4 linked regions of the Homo sapiens genome follow. The protein of the gene in region 4 interacts with the protein of the main gene of each other region in a pairwise test. Each region holds a gene or a part of one and is shown on either strand. Other genes may lie near its edges.

What was found.
Region 1: the proteins of UBQLN1 (region 4) and SRGN interact in binary tests that used the Homo sapiens proteins (3 or more experiments, as listed by UniProt).
Region 2: the proteins of UBQLN1 (region 4) and E2F8 interact in binary tests that used the Homo sapiens proteins (3 or more experiments, as listed by UniProt).
Region 3: the proteins of UBQLN1 (region 4) and LNPEP interact in binary tests that used the Homo sapiens proteins (3 or more experiments, as listed by UniProt).

Annotation. Positions count from the first base shown.
Region 1 is NC_000010.11:69,091,103-69,094,602, reverse strand, and holds part of SRGN (serglycin isoform 1 precursor), read right to left. Parts: intron 1-3,500. UniProt on the Homo sapiens protein: Plays a role in formation of mast cell secretory granules and mediates storage of various compounds in secretory vesicles. Required for storage of some proteases in both connective tissue and mucosal mast cells and for storage of granzyme B in T-lymphocytes.
Region 2 is NC_000011.10:19,227,446-19,230,945, reverse strand, and holds part of E2F8 (transcription factor E2F8), read left to right. Parts: intron 1-111; coding exon 112-315; intron 316-617; coding exon 618-705; intron 706-957; coding exon 958-1,492; intron 1,493-3,500. UniProt on the Homo sapiens protein: Atypical E2F transcription factor that participates in various processes such as angiogenesis and polyploidization of specialized cells.
Region 3 is NC_000005.10:97,026,580-97,030,079, forward strand, and holds part of LNPEP (leucyl-cystinyl aminopeptidase), read left to right. Parts: intron 1-37; coding exon 38-178; intron 179-1,153; coding exon 1,154-1,235; intron 1,236-1,822; coding exon 1,823-1,954; 3' UTR 1,955-3,500. UniProt on the Homo sapiens protein: Release of an N-terminal amino acid, cleaves before cysteine, leucine as well as other amino acids. Degrades peptide hormones such as oxytocin, vasopressin and angiotensin III, and plays a role in maintaining homeostasis during pregnancy.
Region 4 is NC_000009.12:83,662,959-83,666,458, reverse strand, and holds part of UBQLN1 (ubiquilin-1), read left to right. Parts: intron 1-25; coding exon 26-109; intron 110-1,313; coding exon 1,314-1,429; intron 1,430-2,415; coding exon 2,416-2,584; intron 2,585-3,500. UniProt on the Homo sapiens protein: Plays an important role in the regulation of different protein degradation mechanisms and pathways including ubiquitin-proteasome system (UPS), autophagy and endoplasmic reticulum-associated protein degradation (ERAD) pathway.

The sequences.
Region 1 (3,500 bases), on a different chromosome or scaffold from region 4:
TTTATTTACAAAATTAAAAATAAATAAAAATAACTGAGAAAATCAGAATACCTCTTTGCATGAATAATAGTTTCAATTATATAAACAGACATGGGGGGAAAAATGGAAGGAAATACACAAAAATAACTGGAGGTAGAATCTTTGGTGATTTTTTTTCTCATTTTGTTTTCTAAATTGCTATAATAAACAATATTCCTCTAAAAACATAAACATTAAACACTTTAATATAGAAAACAGTAAATATTCTCCCATTGGATTTTCTTTCTTTTCTTTGTAACTATATATTATTCTATCATAATCTTTCCTATGATTCCTGAGTATAGCTTACAATGTCTGGTCTGGGAGAGCTGTTTGTCCAAAATGAGCTAACTCTGCCACTGCCTGGAGGCTGGGGATAAGGCAGGCAAAATGACCTTTCAATGTCTGCCCCTTACTGGCTGTGTGATCTTGGCCAACTTAAACTTCCTGTGCCTCAATTTTCTCATCTGTAGGATGGGGCAGTAATAGAGTTAATAAGGAGATACAAATGTTAGGTTCTCAGAGTAGTACCTAGCACATAGTCAGAGCTCTTCATTGCTAGTTCCTGTCATGAAAAGGAGGAGGACAACAATGACCTATGATCTCCGAGAGTGAACATCTTATAAATTTAAATTCAAATTCCCATTCTACCATTTAGTATCTCTAGGAGTCTCAATTTATGGACTTTCTTTCTTTTCTTTTTTATTTTTCCTTATTTTGAGATAGAGTCTGGCTCTGTTGCCCAGGCTGGAGTGCTGTGGCACATCTCAGCTCACTGCACCCTCCGCCACCTGGGTTTAAGCTATTCTCCTGCCTCAGCCTCCCGACTAGCTGGAATTACAGGCACGTGCCACCATGCCCGGCTAATTTTTTGTAGTTTTAATAGAGACGGGGTTAGCCAGGAAGGTCTCGATCTCCTGACCTCGTGATCCCCTCGCCTTGGCCTCCCAAAGTGCTGAGATTATAGGCGTGAGCCACCGCGCCCGGCCTGGTTTCACTCTTTCTCTTTTGATTCTTTCCTGAGGCAGCATTAGTTTAGCATCTAATTGCTACTTAGACGTCTCTTCCTGTAGGTGAAATAAAAATCCAGCATCTTCTCCAGCAGAGGGCGGTGTCTTCACACCTTGTACTGTCTAGACCAACTTTGTCCAATAGAAACACAAAGCAAACCACATAGGGAGTTTTAAATGTTCCAGCGGCCATATTTTTAAAAGTAAAAAGAAACAGGTGAAATTAATTTTATTTAACCTAACATATTCAAATATTGTCCTTTAACATATCATCAATGTAAAAGTTATTACTGGGATATTTTGCATTCTTTTCTTCATACTAAGGGTTCCAAATCTTGTATATTTTGCATTCACAGCCTGTCCCAATTTGGCCTTGCCACATTTCAAGTGTTCAGTAGCCACAAGTGACTTGTGGCTACCGTACTGGACAGAGCAGGCCTAGGCAGTCTCTTCTGCAAGCCGCTGATGCACTGAGTATCAAGCTGAGAAAATGTTTGCTCACACAGGAAGCTAAACAGAAAAATAATGCTTAATGAGAAAGCATCCAGGTGAAAGACCACATCTTTTCACCAGCATGACAAATACAACTGTAGCATATTAGTAAAAAATATTTCTAGAATACAAAATTCCCCCAGAGTTCAGAATCTCAGCTAATTAAAATTCGTAACGAAGGCTTTCTTTTGGGGGATGATGAAAATGTTCTAGAAGCAATTATAGTGATGGTTGCATGACTCTGTGAATATACTAAAAAACATTGAACACTTTTTTTTTTTTTTTTTTGGAGACAGAGTCTTGCTCCGTCATCCAGGCTGGAGTGCAGTGGTGCAATCTCAGCTCACTGCAACCTCCACCTCCCAGGTTCAAGTGATTCTCCTGCCTCAGCCTCCCAAGTAGCTGGAATTACAGGTGCACACCACCATGCCCAGTTAATTTTTGTATTTTTAGTAGAGACAAGTTCTCACCATGTTGGCCAGGCTAGTCTCAAACTCTTGACCTCAAGTGATCCACTTGCCTTGGCCTCCCAAAATGCTGGGATTACAGGCATGAGCCACCACACCTGGCCTAATCACTGAATTGAACACTTTTAATGGGTGAACTGTATGGTATGTGAACACTATCTCAACAAAGCTATTTTAAAATTTTATAAAGAAATCAAAAGTAGAAGGGATCCCACTCCAAAAGCCTATCTAATTTGGGGCCGATGATGTTAAATGTACTTTAAAATAAAGAACAAGTTACAGACACTAAATTCTTGACATAGCTATTCAAGGGTGTTGGCAGGATGTGAAAATTTACAGTTCCAGCCCCTGAGGTTGTGAGAGTATCTTGACTCTATCTTGCTTGAGATAAATGTCTTGTGATTATAGTGGCTATGCTCATGGATAGAAATGTTATCTTCCTAAAAGGTCCACTTATGGGATTTGTTGGTTAATTGTGTAGTGGATTCCAAGGGAAAGAATGGTTTTTATTTGAATCCTATCCCTCACTGCCCACCTCCCCCACCACCCTGAGTCCTGCTTTACCAAAATACTTTCTATGAGTAAATGTTACCAAAGCAAACAACTTTCTCCAATAGTCCATACCTTTTTATATTATGGTACTAACTTTTCCCTCAACATAATCACAATATACTAATTTCTTTTTTTTTTCTTTTCTTTTCTTTTTCTTTTTTTTTTTTTTTTTTTTTTTTTTTTTGAGACAGAGTCTCAGTCTATCGCCCAGGCTGGAGTGCAGTGGCATGATCTTGGCTCACTGCAACCTCCATCTCCCTGGTTCAAGTGATTCTCCTGCCTCAGCCTCTCGAGTAGCTGGGATTACAGGTGCATGCCACTATGCCTGGCTAATTTTTGTATTTTTAGTAGAGATGGGGGTTTCACCATGTTGGCCAGGCTGGTCTTGAACTCCTGACCTCAAGTGATCCACACTCCTCGGTCTCCCAAAGTGCTAAGACTACAGACGTGAGCCACTGTACCGAGCCTAATTTCCTATTCTTAATGGAAACTTACTGCAGGCATGTTAGAGAAACTTAAGCAGCAACTACCATGAAGGGGAAAAGAAGACCATTTGATTTATTCAAAATGGTAGCATTATCTAAGCCGGAGTTACTTCCTCCTGGTCTATCAATTCCACAAGATGGATAAGCTTCCCCCACTCTTGCATGGTTTGACAAGCTATAAAAAGCTCCTAAGTTTACTTTCAATTTCTCCCTCAACTCAGTGGGAAACGTTATAGCAAGGGCTACGGTCAAAGGATTTTTTGTTTGTTTGTTTAAATAAAGAAAACCTCTGATCCATGAGCTGCAGTAGAAAGTTAATTCTGGCCTTGAAATCAGACGACCAGTTCAGCCGTTAATTAGTTGTAATGGGTCTTGGGCAAGACTCACAAATTTTTTGCAAGAGGTTAATGTATAGAGCAAATGAGATGAGAAATGTCAGATCCAGTTTTCTCCTCTATAATTGGTGCTAATTCCTC
Region 2 (3,500 bases), on a different chromosome or scaffold from region 4:
ATGGTCGGTGCTCTGTAACTTGCCACTTTTATTCCTAAAATTGTTTTATTTCATATCCCAAAAGCCAACTGAGCCATCCAGGTTTTAATACACAGACGTTTTCTGTTTCAGGCTCCAGCCCAGTCATTCATTTTACTCCCTCTGATTTGGAGGTGAGACGGTCTTCAAAAGAGAACTGTGCCAAAAACCTCTTTTCCACACGTGGGAAACCAAACTTTACTCGACACCCATCTCTTATCAAATTGGTAAAGAGTATAGAAAGTGATCGGAGAAAGATAAATTCTGCGCCCAGTAGCCCTATCAAGACCAACAAAGGTATGTTTTCAGGAATGTCAGGGATCTGCTAGGAAGAATTCCCTTTTATCTCATTTTTTCAGCTTACTTGATCCTTGCAATAGTTGTCAGAGAATTATTTCAATATCTATATACCCAAACCCTCTTGAAGCCTAACTAATGTATAAATTTAAAAAGTCATTTGTGGGGTTTATTGTTTAATCGCTATGCAACTTTGAGGGGAGGTGCACACTTTCTGTTCCTCTGACTTCAGTGAGGTTTCATCTGTGTGAACATTTGTTCTTTAGCTTTGACCGGTGCTCTCTTCCTTTCTATTTTACCAGCTGAGAGTTCTCAGAATTCTGCACCCTTCCCAAGTAAAATGGCTCAGCTCGCAGCTATTTGTAAAATGCAGTTAGAAGAGCAATCAAGGTAGGTTGGCAATCCTCTTTAATAACAGGATGAATTACTTTTACATTACATTGTTAGGATTACTTATTTTATGTGAGAAGAAGCCCTAGCCTTGAACTGGAGAGCTAATCTTTTCTGTATCTCATACTCACTCATTACAGAAATTATCTGCATGTTCCATAAAAGCGTGGCTTCAATATGAGGCTTAAAGCGGTAGAACAGTTCAGAAAAAATGTATATCCATCATGTCGTGTATTAAATCTTGTCTTTCAGTGAATCCAGACAGAAAGTGAAAGTACAGCTGGCAAGATCTGGACCCTGCAAACCAGTAGCCCCTCTGGACCCCCCAGTGAATGCTGAGATGGAGCTGACAGCACCGTCCCTCATCCAGCCCCTGGGAATGGTTCCCCTGATCCCCAGCCCCTTGTCATCAGCAGTGCCCCTGATCCTACCTCAGGCCCCTTCAGGCCCATCCTATGCCATCTACCTGCAGCCCACTCAAGCCCACCAAAGTGTGACGCCACCCCAAGGCCTGAGCCCAACGGTGTGCACCACCCACTCTTCTAAAGCTACTGGCTCAAAAGACTCCACAGATGCCACCACTGAGAAGGCAGCCAATGATACCTCAAAGGCCAGTGCCTCTACCAGGCCTGGAAGCTTGCTGCCAGCACCAGAGAGGCAAGGGGCAAAGAGCCGAACCAGGGAGCCAGCTGGAGAAAGAGGCTCAAAGAGGGCAAGCATGCTCGAGGACAGTGGTTCCAAAAAGAAATTTAAAGAGGACCTAAAAGGACTTGAAAATGTCTCCGCAGTAAGTACAGCCTTGAACTGCACAAAGCTTTAGGAATTCCCTAGTCTATTACAGGAAGATTGGTGGCTTGTGAAATTTACCGAAGAGCATTCTCTCAGAAGACAAGGAACTGTTCCTTAGCATCCCATAATCCAAGTGAGGCCCTCAACAGCTAATCCCCTGGCTGGGATGAAGGCAGGGACATTTTTAACCTTTGGAGGAAGGGATTATTTGCTGTCTTTTTAAAGTACCATGGGTGGTTGTCCTTAAGTCCATTTCTCCATCACACACTGGAATGCAAACAGCTGTCATGAAAGTCTTAAATAATTTACAAGCAGACGTAACCCCAAATGAACGTGTGGATGCATAGGGTTCCTGTAACTCCTGCTTTCTGAGTCATTACCTAATGTTTGTTTGTTGTCATGTAACTGGCATCTGTTGCCTAGAAGATAAATTGCTCCCCGTTTTTACTTTCTACCTAAAATTTAAATCAAAATTTCTATTTCATGTAAATAGAAAAATCAAACTGATCTTGGCAAATTGTAGATATAGTTCATGTATTGGTTTCTAGAGATTTTGACATGCTAGACAAATTTTTTTCCTAAGTGGAGATTAGTTCCGGAGGGAATTAATATTTATTGGATGCCTACCCACATATAGCAGACATAATAGATATTAGTCACTTTTACATACAGTATCTCATTTTCCTCCCTTAGGACAATTATATATGAGAGACATTACTGTATCATCCGATAAATACCACTAAATGTGCAAGTAAAAGTTAATCTCTCATTTTGCCCCTGCTCTTAATACAAGCTATTTTACTTCTCTCTGTCTTATTTTTCCGCATCGGTAAAGAATTTATTCCACCAGTTTTTCCTCATCACCTACTGGATATAAAGCACTGTGCTCTGGATCAAATCTAACCCAGCACCTGCCTTTGGTGGCAATTGCTTTTGGGTACTTGCCTGTGGGCATATGATAGTTTTTGTGGGGTTAAGTGAATTTATTCCATGATGATACACATAAAAGGGTTTGATCCTTTTAAGACGTGTTATAAGCTGAAAGGTATTATCTGTTACGTTGTTATTAAAGAGGAAGCTTAGAGTTTGTCAAATCTTCCCTGAGGATGGCCTCATGGTAACCATTCAAAACATCTATTATCTTACATAGTATCCTTTTGTATTTAATGTATATGCCAAGTGGGAAATCATAAGGTTTCAATATTCTGGAAGGTCCATAACTTCTTTTGGCCAATGGGTATGATTTAATAATGGTCTCCTGTTGCTTACATAGTTATTCAGGATTAGGATTTTCAGTGGATAGATTTTCCATATACTCCTGCTTCTTTTTTATATCTCTGCAACTCTAACCATTTCTTTTTTCTTTTGAGACAGGGTCTTACTCTGTCACCCAGAATGGAGTGCAGTGGCATGATTTTAGCTCACTGCAGCCTCGACCTCCAAGGCTTAAGTGATCCTCCCACCTCAGTCTCCCAAGTAACTTAGACTACAGGTGTGCTGCCATGCCCGGCTAATTTTTTATTTTTTGTGGAGACGGGGTTTCACCATGTTGCTCAGCCTGGTCTCGAACTCCTGAGCTCAAGCAGTCTGCCTGCCTTGGCTTCCCAAAGTGCTGAGATCACAGGCATTTGCCGTCATGCCCAGCCCACTTTAACCATTTCGTTTTAGTATGGCCTGAGCAAAACAAAGACAATGAGAGAGTCATGTGTTAATTCATTCAACAAATTTTTACTGAGAATTTATACTTCTAGGGGTGGAAAGAAGATAAGTATGCAAGTAAACACAAACATATCAGGTAGTGAATGATAGGAATGAAGATGACATGATAGGAGGAAGGGGTGGAAGGGCTACTGTAGGCTAGAAGAGTTCAAGTTCAAATATGTCAGATTCATTCGGCAATTTAATAGTTCTAATTATTTTATAAAAAAGGGAATTGGCATAGGTTAAAAGATTCTATAATGAATATAGTTTGTTGGAAATTTAAAAATTATTATTCTATTATTGTG
Region 3 (3,500 bases), on a different chromosome or scaffold from region 4:
TAATAATTTTGGAGGCTAAATCTGCTTTGCTCTTCAGGTTAATGAAAAGTAGCCTGAATGGAGATAACTTCCGAACACAGAAGCTGTCTTTTATCATTAGAACAGTGGGTCGACATTTTCCTGGACACTTACTGGCATGGGATTTTGTCAAAGAGAACTGGAATAAGCTTGTACAGAAGTAAGTTTCTCAGAGAATTATTAACTTTTAGTATTCTCAAGTTGTGCATTTGAAAAAAGCTCCCAGTGTTTTGGCTCACAGAAGTTAGGATTTGCTGTGAGAGGAAAAATACTTCCATGACAGTTTAACTGAAACATCCGGAAATTTTCACATTTGTTAACATAATTCCATAGCATGAATCATTTAACAGTAGCATTCCATCTAAGTTCTAATTAAGCCTAGCCTTGCTTGGCACCAGGTTACTTAGCTCAGCGTGGCTACAGACTATTTCATAGCAACCATTTAGCTATGCATATTGAAAAATACCTCTGTATGGCCGGGCGCGGTGGCTCACACCTTTAATCCCAGCACTTTGGGAGGCCGAGATGGGCGGATCACGAGGTCAGGAGATCGAGACCATCCTGGCTAACACGGTGAAACCCCATTTCCACTAAAAATACCAAAAATTAGCCGGGCATGGTGGCGGGTGCCTGTAGTCCCAGCTACTTGGGAGGCTGAGGCAAGAGAATGGTGTGAATCTGGGAGGCAGAACTTGCAGTGAGCCGAGATTGTGCCACTGCACTCCAGCCTAGGCAACAGGGCGAGACTCCGTCTCAAAAAAAAAAAACAAAAAGGAAAATACCTCTGCATTGCCAAGGCATCAGTTAAGAACTCACATTCAGCTAGATGCAGATGTAGGTTTTTTGCTTCTTTCTCTCTTTTAAATCAATAATGGCATTTCTGGGTGTACAGTGTGATCTTCGACAATGTTAAGCGGATTAATTGTCTGCATGTTCTGAACTCTTCCCTTTTTCTGCCCACCTTTCCTTCCCACCGACAATAAGTATGCATAGGGCTACCCCGGTTTCCTCAGTTGCAGTTCCGGGAGGAGGATTCCACTCTGGCTTTGGCATTAAAGACTTTTCCTTGCACTCAGGAACAACGCTTTACCAGCAGCTGCCTAATCTTTTTGCTCTTGTTTTTGTGTTTCTTCAGGTTCCCTCTGGGGTCCTATACCATACAAAATATTGTTGCTGGATCAACTTACCTGTTTTCAACAAAGACACATTTATCTGAGGTTGGTTTTATAAAATGATAATACAGAGACTGGGCAACCCTCCGCACACCCGGACCAGGCTGCTCAGTTTTAGTGAGATGGTGGATTTTCATGCTAATTCCTTCTCTTATCTCTGTCTTCCTTTATCAGTACTAATGATTCTGCATTGTGATTACTTCTAGAGGGTGGCATATATGATAATGAGGAAAAAATCTGATTCCATTCTCTTCCCTTGTCTCCCTAATACAAATAATTTAAGTGGTCATAAAATTGTTTGGAAGAATTGCATTCTTGGGGTGAATTCATAGCACCAAGCCTTTGGACTCTACTTTATTTATTGTTACTTAAACATCTCCTTGGTTCCATTTTAAGTTAGAAAAATGTATCTGTGTGGGAGTAAAAAGATTTCCTTTTTAAAATCATTTCAGATATCACCATACTTGATTGGGAACTCCATGTAGATACCTTGAATATTAAAGTACTTCTTTCTACTGCTTTCAAGATAGCAGCACAGCCATCACTAAGTTAAAGCTTATTTTAAAAGCTGGGGTTACCTGAGGTTTATCGTCCTTTTCTTCTTTTGAAATTCTTCTGTGTGAAACTTACAGGTTCAGGCATTCTTTGAAAATCAGTCAGAGGCAACCTTCCGGCTTCGTTGTGTCCAGGAGGCTTTGGAAGTCATTCAGTTGAATATCCAGTGGATGGAGAAGAACCTCAAAAGTCTCACATGGTGGCTGTAGCATGCACAACCGCACCTCATTTTGTTGCCCATTCAGAGAGCTTGTAAGCTTGGGCTCTGCCGCTTTTGCAAAAGCCAAGGTAAAGCCAGGATCGCTGCCAAGTTGTTTGCACTCTTTGGAGTTCTAGTTAGCTCAGGGCCTGACTGTATTTTTCATCCATCTTTTCTGAAGTGTCTTTGGGCAGTATGTAGTTATTTATTACAAAATTATATTCACCTAAATGCCAACCATCTACAAAAACAATGAGTAATTTTTCTACTTTGAAGATACACAGATGGGGACAAAAACCCTGTTTTGGAATTCTGTTCTATTCCTCAGTATCCAGAAAGTTACTGACACAGTAAAACAAGGAAAGTTCTACCCTAAGAGCCGCCATCACTTCAGGCCGCTGGTTTGTCAGCCATCTGTTGCTTCTTATTGATAGATGGCATTGGAATGTGGTACAAAGTTAGCTCTGAAGAATATGGTAACGAAGACAATAAAGCATGCACTGTAAGAACTGACCTCAGGTGTGCAGATCTACTTTGATTTGGGGTTTTGATTAATTCTTTATTTTTCTGAAAAAAAGTTTAAATAATGTCTGTAACTATTGTGTTTTTTTCCTGCCGAATAGCCAGGTGCTACAGATTTTTAAAATTTTTGTTGTATTGAAAAGCTAAACAAGGCCAAAAGGTTAAATTTTTTGAATATTTAAGACTTTCTTTTTCATCTTTTATAGCGTTACCATAGGAAACTGTTCCAAACTGAGTTAGCTTTAATTATAATTATTTTATTCATAAATGGTGATAGTCCCCAGATCTGTACACCTTTATCACTCCCTGCCGTAGATATACTTTAGGTTAGTATTTCTACATTCGTGGCAAGCATTTTGGTAACACCAGTGGTTTTCATTGTGACTTTTATCACTATCACTAAGAATGCAATTTAAGTTGCCTTTTGGCATCATAGATCATAGAAACTTTCTCTCTGAATCATACCCATGTGTGAATTTTCATTTTATATGATAGTGTAGCATATTAGAAGCATATTTTAAAACAGAGCCTTTGAGAAATTGAAAAACAATTATTTGAAGTTCACCATAGTACCTTAAAGGAACAAAGAGAATGTGGGATAGGAGTAACTTGAATTCGTGTTTAGTATGGTGGGCTTTGAATTTTTTTCACTATCAAAAATAGTGCTTTTGTTTAGTTAAAAATTGTAGTTTTTCTTTTTTTGTGTGTCCAAACTAACATAAAAGGAGTGGTCAAAGAAGGAAAGAAGAAAAATGAGGGAGGATGTCCGAAACTGTATGGCATTTTACTCCTTCTGAAAGAGAAATACTGTACTTGAATTTTTGAGCTATGCAGACTTATACCTAGATTGTTGTGTTTCTTTGATTCTTAGGAGAAAAGCTTTCTTCCTAATAATTCTTGAGAACTTTATATTTTGTTTGAAAACAGTTTCTATGTACATAAAAAGGGTATTTACCCATTTGTGAGCACTTAAAACACTCCACAGAGTCAGACAGTGGGAAAGGTCACCCTTTTTTTATTCGGCAGGTATCAAG
Region 4 (3,500 bases):
AATTGTTTGAACACTTGCCCCATAGATGATGCTGAATAATCCCCTATTTGCTGGAAATCCTCAGCTTCAAGAACAAATGAGACAACAGCTCCCAACTTTCCTCCAACAAGTGAGTAAGACAAGATGTTAGCTATCTTGGGTAATGATTTGCTTGAAAAAATTTGATGATAAACATTTTTCCTTGCTCTTCTCTGGCTGATAGCAAAACATAGAATAGAGACCAATAATGCTGTCAATTCGTAGAGAATTCAGCTTGATCTTCACTGAGTCCCATTTCACTGCTGACCTTTTGCTTATGTTTCTTAAACATACATTCTGAGGAAAGAACATTTTGTTTTTGCTTTTGAGGACCTAGGATTTTGAATGCTTTGTTAATACCATAAACCATTTCCTTTCATTGTACTAACTTTGAAGTGCTTCCTTGTGTCATGTTACGCTTTATGGTTTAACTAATTTTGAGTAACAGGAAAGAGCTACCCTATTCTATTTTATAGGTTTTCTTCCAAATTAGTAGAAGGCTTTTTTTCCCCAAGGGGTAGATCTCATTTCCTCAAACTCGGGATTAGTAAGATTAAAATAGTCAGTGTTGTCATATAAGGAAGTAAGGAAGGTTATAGTATAAACGAGTACTTGAGATTGCCATGGTATTTTATTATTTAAAACGACAAAAGAGAAGTCAGTCTTGGTGTTTTGAAACTGGTAGTTCTAGGGCCTCATGTATTATGCAAATGACTCTCAGACCTGTAAACCATTTTCCAAGGTTGGTGTCCTTGATCTATTGTAATGATGTAAGCCTATCTTTGGTTAGTCAGGTGGTGTATATTTGGAAGTAGTAAAGCTAAACTCAGGATACATGTATTAACGTCAAATTTGGAACTGTTGTTTTAGAGTGTACCTTACTGGTAAAATTGTTATATTAGTAACAGATAACACTTGGTTAGGTGGAATATGTGGCTTTTTACCATATCCACGTCGTAAGAATTGTGCCTTTGGAGGTTGTGTCTTAGAAGTAATACTTTATCTTCTGTTGGAGAAGGGGAATAGTTGTGGCTTCCAAAGTAGCTCCTGATTTTCTTCCATTATGGAAATGGCTTTCATGATGGACTTAGGAGGAGGTCAAGTAATAATTTGCACACTAGGTTTGCTGTCAAAGAGGAGATACTTGCGTTTATTTTGGGAAAGAAATTATGGATTACCAGTGTCCAGGAGTAAGGTTTTAGATTTTCTCCAGAAGCATAACAGAGAAAAGATTTAAAAATTTACGTTCACTGATTTTAATTCCTTTGTAACCACTAGTTTTCTTTCTTCCTTAGATGCAGAATCCTGATACACTATCAGCAATGTCAAACCCTAGAGCAATGCAGGCCTTGTTACAGATTCAGCAGGGTTTACAGACATTAGCAACGGAAGCCCCGGGCCTCATCCCAGGGTAGGCTTATTTGGGGAAGATAATGAAAGTGTATAATGGTTACTTTCTCTGAGAATTTCAGATTTAGTATTATTCTGCCTGCCTTTTTTTTTTTTTTTTTTTTTTTGGTGGGATACAGGGTCTCGCCCTTCGCCTAGGCTATGAGTGTGGGGGCGCAGTTGTGGCTCACTGCAGCCTCGACCTCTCGGGCTCAAGGGATTCTCTCACCTCAGCCTCCCAAGTAGCTGGGACTACAGGTGTGCACCACCACACCTAGCTAATTTATATATATAATTTGTTGTTGTTACTGTTTTTAGAGATGGAGCTTTGCCATGTTATCCAGGCTGGTCTCAAACTTCTGGGCTCAAGAGATTTGGCCTCCCAAAGTGGGATCAGAGACATGAGCCATAGCACCTGGTTCTCCCCCACCGTTTTTATTTATTTATTTACTTATTTATTTATTAAGAGATCGGTTTTTGCTCTTTTACCCTGGCTGAACTTGAACTTCTAAGCTCAGGTGATCCTCCCACCTCAGCCTCCCCAGTAGTTGGGACACAGTGCCTGGCTATGATTGTTTTTAAGTCAGGGTTTTCAAAGTTAAAAATGATTATTATTATTTTTTAAATTCCTTTTAGAGATAGTCTCACTCCATCGAGCAGACTGGAGTGCAGTGGCGCGATCTCAGCTCACTTCAGCCTCTACCTCCTGGGCTAAAGCAATCCTCTTACCTCAGCCTGCCAAGTAACTGATACTACAGGTGTGCACCAGCACACCCAGCTAATTTTGTTTTTATTTTTTGTAGAGATGAAGTCTCAACAATGTTGCCTAAGCTGATCTCAAATTCCTGGGCTGCTGGGATCATCGGTCTCCCAGAATGAGCCACTGCACCAGGCCAAAAGGGCTTATTTTAAGAAGATGGCTTAGCTTATATTAAAATGTAACTGATTTACGGACTGGCTTCTGGTTTTGCAGGACCTTAGGATATTTCCTATTTGTGCTTTCTGTAGGTTTACTCCTGGCTTGGGGGCATTAGGAAGCACTGGAGGCTCTTCGGGAACTAATGGATCTAACGCCACACCTAGTGAAAACACAAGTCCCACAGCAGGAACCACTGAACCTGGACATCAGCAGTTTATTCAGCAGATGCTGCAGGCTCTTGCTGGAGTAAATCCTCAGGTATCAGTTCTTTTCCATTCAAGTTTTGTATTCCTTAATGTTGGAAATTTAGAAATTTCCAAAAAGAAGGAAAAAGGGAGAAAAAAGGAAAGCAGTAGTTCTTAGGTGTTTAGATTAATGAAAAATACAGTCTTAAGGATATTGAGTAAGAAAACAGGCATTACAAAAATTGTTGACTTTGGTGCTGAGACACTAAAGGAAACGTTGTTACGGTTGTAGAGAAGACATGCTACAACCTAAAGTCTTATTTTTTAGAAATTGCCTTTAAAAATGCATTTTTTTTGTTCCTATTTGAAAATCATTTGAAATAGATTTTGCTTTAAAAAAGTTCTTAGGGAGGAATGGAAACTTGATTATCCCAAGTACCTCCAGGGCAGCTGTATTCTAGTCTGTCTTTTGACTGGAAAAAAGTCCTAACTACCTTAACTCCACCCATGACACCACCTCCTGCGGTAGCTTGTGTTACATATATATATATCTCGTAAATATGGCTAAAGAATATGGACCCCCTAATAATGTGGTTGCATCTACAAACATACATTGGTTTTACTAATAATGTGCCATTATATAAAGATGATCGCCAGTTTAAACCTGTTTTATTAGGTTGTCCCCAAACTTCTTAATGTCTCAAGGTCTGTTAGGTGCTTTCTGTTTTCTTTTCTGGGTTTCTTTTTTCTTTCCCTTTCTCCTTTCCCCTTTCCTTTTCCTCCTTCCTCTTCCCCTTTCCCTTTTCCCTTTCCTCTTCCCCTTCCCCCTTTCCCCTTTTTCCTCTTTCCCCTCTTTGCCTTTCCCTTTTTTTTTTTTCTTTCCCTTTCCCTTTTGACAAAGTGCCCAGGCTGGATGCAATCACAGCTCACTGCGACCTGCACCTCCTGGGCTGCAGCAATCCTCCCACCTTAGCCTCTGGAGTAGCTGG